Regions from separate parts of the Homo sapiens genome. Here region 2 is reported to be linked to region 1. Evidence: microRNA targets listed by miRTarBase, many of them from high-throughput screens and not tested one by one. Region 1 holds a microRNA gene; the other region holds the end of a gene's coding sequence.
What was found. Region 1 holds the annotated microRNA hsa-miR-6514-3p (CUGCCUGUUCUUCCACUCCAG, at 2,357-2,377, opposite strand). A microRNA usually pairs through its seed, bases 2 to 8, with sites in the 3' UTR of a target mRNA and lowers its output. Matches are read on the target gene's strand: a 7mer-m8 pairs with bases 2 to 8, a 7mer-A1 pairs with bases 2 to 7 and ends in A, and an 8mer does both.

Region 2: the mRNA of OTUD7B is a reported target of hsa-miR-6514-3p. The part of its 3' UTR that is shown has no 7-base or 8-base seed match.

The regions. Positions count from the first base shown.
Region 1 is chr11:62,790,346-62,793,475 of GRCh38, forward strand. It overlaps MIR6514 (microRNA 6514), which reads right to left and starts at 2,426; the gene lies at 2,357-2,426. It overlaps TMEM223 (transmembrane protein 223), which reads right to left and starts at 1,661. Exons shown (of 2, transcript NM_001080501.3): 1 at 1,334-1,661; 2 at 1-570. The coding sequence starts at 1,649. The coding sequence ends at 278. It overlaps NXF1 (nuclear RNA export factor 1), which reads right to left. Exons shown (of 21, transcript NM_006362.5): 20 at 2,296-2,356; 21 at 1,785-2,169. The coding sequence ends at 2,131. TMEM179B (transmembrane protein 179B) reads left to right here. Exons shown (of 5, transcript NM_199337.3): 5 at 1-55. RefSeq lists an enhancer at 1,061-1,570 and a silencer at 1,641-1,790.
Region 2 is chr1:149,941,228-149,946,799 of GRCh38, forward strand. It overlaps OTUD7B (OTU deubiquitinase 7B), which reads right to left. Exons shown (of 12, transcript NM_020205.4): 12 at 1-3,838. The coding sequence ends at 2,630. Among named protein-coding and RNA genes, the nearest start is that of MTMR11, 7.1 kb to the left of the region's middle.

The DNA.
Region 1 (3,130 bases):
CTAGGGATGACTGCTCCTTTATTTGTTGTTAATGAATCTTGACCTCCTTGTGTGACCCTGGTTGTTACTCCATTCTAAGATTGGCGTTTTTTTTTGTTTTTTTTTTTGTAAATAGAGACAAGGTCTCGCTATGTTGCCCAGCCTGGGCTCGAGCAGTGCTCCTGCCTCACCCTCCCAAAGTGCTGGGATTACAACAGGTGTGAACCAACACACCTGGCTCCCCAAGGTTCAGTTTTTATCCTCCTCTTGGAGAGGTGAGTGACTTGAGGTCATTTCTTCACAAGCTCCGGTAGGCACCCACAGTATTGTCAAAGAGTTTTGTGTTAGGGAAGTGTCCAGTTTTGTCCAAGAGGAAATAGAAGCGTCGGCCTTTGACTTTCAGAGGTAGCATGGCAGGGACTTCACCCCGGTGGGCCATGCAAGATACCTGCTTCAAAGGAACTGTGAAATGGGCCCCCAAGCCAAAGGGGGCATGAGTGGTGAGGGTCACCTGCTGCCCTCCAGCTCGAAGCACCACTGAGCGCACAGACCGGAGAGAGAAGAGAAGACCAGCACCGAGTACGAGGGCTCCTGCAGGCAGGGCAGAGATTGGGGTGAGGGGTTTTCACTGGGCATCTAAGTACCGACCTTTCCAGTGCCCTCTGAATAAGAAATTTGTGGGATGAAAGTAGTATTTACTGAGCGCTTTTTTTTTTGAGACTGAGTCTCACTCTGCCGGCCAGGCTGGAGTGCAGTACTGAGCTCCTGTTATACCCAGTAATCTTGTTATTCCTCCCAACAACCTTAATAGATGTCCGTTTCCATTTTAATGGGAAGATGGAGAGCTTTAAGGACCTTGCTCAAGGTCGCAGAGTGAAGGGCAGCCCTCAGCCTAGGCTATGACAGGGCACGGCGCTCGGAGACATCACTGTTTCCCAATTTTTTTTTTTGAGAGGGGAGTCTCGCTCGGTCGCTTAGGCTGGAGTGCAGTGGCGTCATCTCGGCTCACTGCAACCTCCGCCTCCCAGGTTCAATTGATTCTCCTGCCTCAGCCTCCCGAGTAGCTGGGACTACAGGCGCTTGCTACCACGCCCAGCTAATTTTTTGTATTTTTAGTAGACACAGGGTTTGACGGTGTTAGCCAGGATGGTCTGGATGTCCTGACCTAGTGATCCGCCCGCCTCCGGCCTCCCAGCATTTGAGCCGCCGCGCCCGGCCAGTGTTTCACATTTCTGTGGGGTAAAGCCCGCCCGCCACTCTCGGATAGGGAGTCCCTGACTCTCCCTGCCTGTATAGGGAAGGTCGTGTCCCGCCACCCCACGTTGTCACAGTGGGAAGCCAGCCCACGTCTTACCGATGGCGCCGCAGCCGACGGCCAGACCGTAGCGCCAGAGCGCGGAGCGCAGGTCGAAGGGGCCACGATTTGGGACCTCCGCATCCAGAGGCTGCACCGGAACCGGGGGCCGGGACACGGCTGCCACAGCCATGGAAGCCCAGAAGACGCCCTGGCCCGCGCAGAACAGCCCGAGGATGGTGAAGAAGCGGCCCCGATCATGCTCAAAGAGCAGCACATCCCGTTGCAGCGTCGTGCCTTGCAGGGGCCGGCAGGTGAGCAGGGGCCGCAGCACGGCTAGCAGCCCCGTGGGCCATCGCCTCCAAGGCGCCGCCATGGCCAGCCGACTTCCGGGGTGGGGCTTCCTGCCGCAGAGCCGCCTTCCGCCCTCCCTGGGCGCCCCCGCTAGAGGGCCCGCCCCCCTCGCTCAGGGCTGGGAGGAGACAACCAATCCAGCACGCAGAACACGAAATACAACATCACTCTTTATATTAAAAAGTGCAGAACACGAAATACAACATCACTCTTTATATTAAAAAGTAAGGAGGTCCTGGGGTTAAGTACACAAAGCACCTAAGTCCTTCGGGTAGTTTAGTGTCAGTTCTACAAAGTAAGCTTTGGCTTCCTGGCACCAGTGAGGCTCAATCTTCTGAAGTCTTCCAGAAGGCAGGCGAGGAGAGGGATCAGGCAGCCCTCCCTCCCTCGGTCACAGTCACGGGGCGGCCTCGGGCCAGACAGGAGGAGATGACAGACGACAACCAGACGGTAATATCCAAGGACTATTTACAGGGGGGACTGCTTCTGAGGCATGACTACGATCACTTCATGAATGCCACTTCTGGGATCTCGCCCTTGGCCTGGAGAAAAATGAAGGTCAGTAGAGGTAGGCCTACCCTCGCCACTCAGCAACCCCACTCAGCTAACCTGACCTCCTGGAGGCCCAGAGATCCTAGTCTTTTTGCCACTGTATTTCCAGACCTTACCTTGAGATGAGTGAAGGCCTGGGCAGATCTGGTGTAGTCCCAGTTGTTGTCCTGAAGGCACCTGGAGTGGAAGAACAGGCAGCTCTGTAAGAACTCTGACTCGTAAATGCCAGCTGAAAGTCCACTCCATAAAAGCACCCAAGTTTGCCAACAAATATGTACATTCTTATACATCCTTGCACTATTTATACAAATGAGACATTAGTAAAAGTCCAGATGTTCTACCAATGGCTTCTCAAAGATAAGGAATATTAAATAGCTGTCAAGAAGCTCAAGATAGTTTTTACAGTGGTAGGGAAAGATGTTCATGGTGTAAGTAAAGAAACTAAGTTGCAGAACAGTATATGAAAAGGAACTTCCATTTTACCTTTAAAGTTTTTTATGTTAATTTATACACAGGCAAATTTTTTATAGACTATCAGGTTTGTGTTTTTCTGTTTGCTTTTTTTTTTTTTTTGAGACCGAGTCTTGCTCTGTCACCAGGCTGGAGTGCAGTGGCGTGATCTCGGCTCACTGCAACCTCCGCCTTCCAGGTTCAAGCAATTCTCCTGCCTCAGCCTCCCGAGTAGTTGGGACTACAGGCGTGGAACGCCAAGCCCCGCTAATTTTTGTATTTTTAGTAGAGACGAGATTTCACCATGTTGTCCAGGATGGTCTTGATCTCTTGACCTCGTGATCTGGCCGCCTCAGCCTCCCAAAGTGCTGGGATTACAGGTGTGAGCCACCTCTCCCAGCCAACTATTAGGTTTTTTTAAGCAGCCAAAAGTTTTGCCTTTTAAAATTTCAGGAGCCCAGGCACAGTAACTCACACCTATAACCGCAGCACTTTGGGAGG
Region 2 (5,572 bases), not on the chromosome of region 1:
GAATCTAACAACAGATCAAATCCAAACACAGCAGTCCAGTGGAGAATCAAAACTTTTCCGGCTTTATTCTCTGGGAAAACCCCTGGTCTGTTTTCATTCCTATTGGTCCAGGCCACCATTCTATGATATGAAGGCCTAAATTAGGAAAGCTAGGTGAGCTGTGCAAATTCAGGGTGTCTGAGCCACCTGTTGTTTGGTGTGTGATGGGGGTGGAGGCGCACACAGTGGTGTTCTCGCTAGTGTTCAAATCACAGAAACAGGGACGTAACTAGGGTGAGGTGAGCAAAGCACTCACCTTGGGCACAAAATTTAAGGAGTGCCAAAAAACCCAGTAACCAAGATAAATACTATTTTAATGCAACATTTTTAAAAAATCACAATTAATGTAAAAAGTCTATGATGGACAATGTATCAAAAATTTAAATAAGAAGGATTCATCCCCATACTTATTCAATTCAGCCTCACTTCCCTCCTCCTAATCTCAGTCCTGTCAGATCCTGTAAGATTTCGCTATTTTATCCAACATAAATTTTTTGCATTAATTTTTTTAAATACTGCATTTTTTATAGTATCTTGATTAATGAGTTTTATAGTAACCCTTAAATTTTGCAACTTAGGGGAGTGCTCATCTCATACCAGGTTCCAGACCTGCCTAGACATATACACATCCCTTCCTTTGGAATCTCACTGCTTCCTTAACACAAATCTATTTTCAAAGAAAACCCTAAGAATTAATAGCCATAGGAAATTATTAAATCAGATTTGGAAAATAGGTGACTTCTGAGTTTGTTGAGGAGAAAATAACCTTTATAAACCGTGAGCATTTCCAACAAGGACAATCTTGACTGGCTACCGAGGAGGAAAACACACACACATATGCACGCACGCACATGCATGCACGCTCAAGTGCTTTAGATCAAATGTGGGGATTACGTTCCAAGGGATGGGTTATGAGTACATACCTCAAAAGAGAAATCCAAACACAGAAAAACAGCCCCAGTTAATACTCTGGACACATAAGTACACTTATTCCCCTTCTTCACATGCACCCGGGAGTGTATACAATTGCATAGTTGACTTTTTTTCCCGGAAAAAAATATAAAGAAAAAGGAAAATTGGCCCAGGATAGGTCTTCCGGTTTAAAGCTCTTAGAAATGGCTCTGGCCAGAGCATAGGCTGTTCAGACTTGTGCTTTGTGCAAAATGCGAAGGAGCTCCCCCTACTGTGTCCGCATCCCCACTCCCAGCCCCTAGAGAACAGGGAAGGGTCAGGGAAAGGGAGAAACCTAAAGACAGATCAGCTCATTGGGAGTCATCTGTGCTCTGTGGTTATAGTTCACTAAAATATATTTCTCTAACTACCTTTTTATAAATTGCCCCTATATGTTTCAACATCAGTCCTAATATCAAAAATATCTCTTCTTAGAAAGTATTTTTAATTATTTTAATAAACTAACCACAGATTAAGGTCAGCTATGGCTTAACAAAAGAAGCCGGGATGTTAAGTTCATTCTCCAAAAGTAGAGCAAAGGGAGAAAGAACCACTTAAGTAGGAGGAAAAAAAATCATTTTTTAAATGTTTTTGCTTGCTGGGGTCTTTTTATTTCTTTTCCTTAAAAAAAAAAGTCAATAAAATAAGTTGCTTTCTACAGAAACGCAGCAGCCACAGAGGCCTGTAATGCTCTACTTAGGTTTTTGGTTTTGTTTGAAACAGCCTCTGGCTAAAATGTCTGTCCTCCCACCCCTCCCAAGGTGCACTCAAACCCCAACGTATGGTTATTGCTGTGGTTAAAAAATAGATCAGCTCTGCCCCAATTCACCTGGAGAAAATGCAACACACATGACGGCTGTTCTCACCACACTCTTCCCTTTAAACAAATACAATTAAAGACTTAGATGAGGAAAAGACAGGGGGTAATCAGCAATCTCTTCTCAAACTGTAACAGATGACATATGACTGCTTGGAAGGAAATAAACCTTAAGAGGAAAAGGATTTCCCTCTTAAGTTCCTCCCTTTCCCATCTAAACAAACGGATTTAAACTACCCCCACCTCCTAACAGGCACCCATGAGGACACATTACTGCCTTGTCTTTCCAGATCCTTCAAGGGGAAGAATTTATCCAACCTTAATTTCTAGCTTAATTCAAATCAATAGCAAATGTGTCCAATTTCCCACTTCCCCTCCACACTTCTCACTCCACCATGTGCTTTTTCCCAACCTAAAGAACTTTGGTTTTATTGACTGAGAACCTCCTTTGCCCATTCCTCCCCAAGACTTCTGCCCACCTCCCACCCCCACACACCAAACCTTCCCCTGCTACTTTCTCTTAGGTCCCTGGATGGGACCCAGGAGGTTATAAGACAGAATCGCCATCTTTTCCCCTTGTACCTCAAACCTCATCAAGTCAAGCTCTGCAGAGGAATAGTACAGCCCCTGAGGTGCCATCCAGCCCCGACCTGCTCTTGCCAGCCTGGCAGCACTCCTGTGTGCACACACTTAAAAGTTTCCAGCCAGGCTCCCACAAACATTACTGCATTTTCCCCCTCAACATGGGGACTGTGTTCTTGATGAGCCAATTAGTTGAGCTTAACTTTGTTTAGCCTCCTTGCCCTTCAGTGTTCCACCCGTTCAGAACCTGTGCACCAGGAGCTCCCCATCCGGTTCCCGCTCCCTCCTCCTCAGTTCTTCCCTGTAACAACAGGAACAGAAGTTGTTTGTCTCAGGGTGTCCATAGAAGCTGCAGTTCGGTTGTTTGCATTTGGTCTGAGTTGGGGGAAGGCCCCGGAGACCTCCAGCCCATCCATCTGGCTCAGGGGGCTCTCTGTAGCCATTGCTATAGGAATCAGCCACTCGGTAGGGGGGTGGTAACAAGGCACCCCTGTGAAGTCCATCCTTAGAGTGGCTGCCTGGCTCCAGAGAAGGGATGCTGTCCTGGTGGGGGTAGGGTCGCCCAGGAGGGCACTGTCTGGGGAAGGTGGCATATGGTGGTAGGCCCCCGACACATGGACCCCCTGCCAACTGCCTCCGGGGTTCCTGGCAGTGGACTCCGCCCCCAGACGGCCGAGGGATAGTAAAGTCCCCAGGGTAGCCAGTGGAAAATGCCATTGCCCTGGACTCTGCTGGGGGACCGGTCGGCTGCTCTTCCCTAGCATCTGGCTCTGGCTTTTTGGCTGGAGGAGGGCCACCCCCTATTCCTCCATTCATGATCTTCCTCTCTGCCTCCTTCTGCTTCTGTTCTGCCAGGAATCTCTCCTCAGCATCAGAAAGGTAGCGCTGGATCATTTCCTCCTGATACTGGTGACGGTGACCCATCTTCAGGGTTCCAACAAAAATAAACTTCCCCTCCCCTTGCATGGCAGTCCTCAGAATGCTCAGGCTCTGCATCACCTCCTGGCTATACTTGCTCCCTCCGTTACCAACAGACTCAGCTGGGGGCTTCTCAGACACAGGCCCATCCCCAGCTGCCTCCTCCTTGCCACCCTTCCAGCTCTTCAGTGAGTTTTTCTTCTTCTTCTCCAGTGTCTCAGTGCCGCTGCTTCCTCCCAACCCTGTCCCCACCCCTCCAGGCTTTGAACCCTTGCTGTGCATCAGGCCCCCCATGTTCTTCTTGAGCTTGCTGCCCAAGGTTTTGCCAAAGCTGCCCAGTTTGTTAGCCACAGAATCTGCTCTCTTCTTGTCCTTCTCCCGATCTCGCTTTGACTTCTCCTTCCGCCGGCCGCCCTCGTTGCTGGTGGAACTGCTGCCAACTGACTCCTTGTCTGAGTCTCCAGACTCAGGAGTGGACCGGGGCTCATCTCCAGCTGAGGCGGTGGGGGACTCAGGCTGGGCCAGAGGAGCCTGGAAGAGACAAGAACACTGTTGACAGTTATCCCAGCAGCCTGGGGTGGGGGAATCCCCCAGGGACCTCTAGCCCATCCATCTGGCTCAGGGAGCTCCCTGCAGCCATGGCTATAGAAATTAGCCAGGTAGAAAAGGATGGACACCTATGAACTCCGTCCTCTGAGTGATTGCCTAGTGACTGCCTTGCTCCAGAGAAGGGCTTCTGTCATGATGAGGGAAGGGTCACCCAGGATGGCACTGTCCTTCCTGGGTTCCAGTCAGTCAGCTTTCTCCCCCACTGCAATCTGACTCCCTTCTGTAATAAGGAGATAGTAGAATAAAGCCTTACTGTTCATTTAGAACAATGAGCAACCATATGATACGTGGCTTCCGGGTGAGAGGCCCAGACATTAGAATGTTCTTTATTATACATTTCTCTATGCCAAATTCTGCTCGAAACTAATCTCAAGAAAGTCTTGACTAATCAAAACTAACCAAGTCTAGCCACTTTGCATCCCCTCAACTTTTATACATTCTGCATTGGAGTTATCAATTTGACCCTACTCCTGTGCTCCTGTTCTAACTCAGAGCCCACTGAATTAGGAGCTCTTTAAGCTACTCCGTCTCCTAGTGCCCAAAACAGAGGTCTATCTACAGAAGACTTTGGACGAAATAATGATCATCTCAAGTTCAACAAACAGTCCAGAAAACCTTTCTTAAAGAATATGTTAAGCCAGGCACGGTGGCTCATGCCTGTAATCCCAGCACTTTGGGAGGCCGAGGTGGGTGGATCACCTGAGGTCGGGAGTTCCAGACCAGCCTGACCAACATGGAGAAACCCCATCTCTACTAAAAATACAAAATTAGCCGGACGTGGTGGTGCATGTCTGTAATCCCAGCTACTCAGGAGGCTGAGGCAGGAGAATCGCTTGAACCCAGGAGGCGGAGGTTGCAATAAGCTGAGATCGCACCATTGCACTCCAGCCTGGGCAAAAAGAGTGAAACTCCATCTCAAAGAAAAATAATAATAATAATAATAATATGTTTTAGGTCAGGCGCGGTGGCTCACGCCTGTAATCCCAGCACTTTCGGGGGCCAAGGCAGGCGGATCACAAGACCAGCCTGGCCAACATGGCGAAACCCCATCTCTACTAAAAATAGAAAAATTAGCTGGACATGGTGGCGGGCACCTGCAATCTCAGCTACTCGGGAGGCTGAGGCAGGAGAATCGCTTGAACCCAAGAGGTGGAGGTTGCAGTGAGCTGAGATCGTGTCATTGCACTCCAGCCTGGGCATCAAGAGCAAGATTCCGTCTCAAAAAATATATATATGTTTTAGTATCAGATAACAGAGACTGGCTGGAGAGGAGATGTGGAAAACAGGAGACTAACGGTTTTTAAAAAGCAGGAAAGGGCTGGGTGTGGTGGCTCATGCCTGTAATCCCAGAACTTTGGGAGGCCAAGGTGGGTGGATCACCTGAGGTCAGGAGTTCGAGACTAGCCTGGCCAACGTGGTGAAACTCCGTCTCTACTAAAAATACAAAAATCAGCCGGGTGTGGTGGCGCACGTCTGTAATCCCAGCTACTCGTGAGGCTGATGCAGGAGAATCACTTGAACCTGGGAAGTGGAGGTTGCTGTGAGCCAAGATTGTGCCACTGCATTTCAGCCTGGCTGACAGAGCAAGACTTCCTCTGAAAAAAAAAAAAAAAAAAAGGACAGGAAAGGCCAGGCGCGGTGGCTCACACTTGTAAT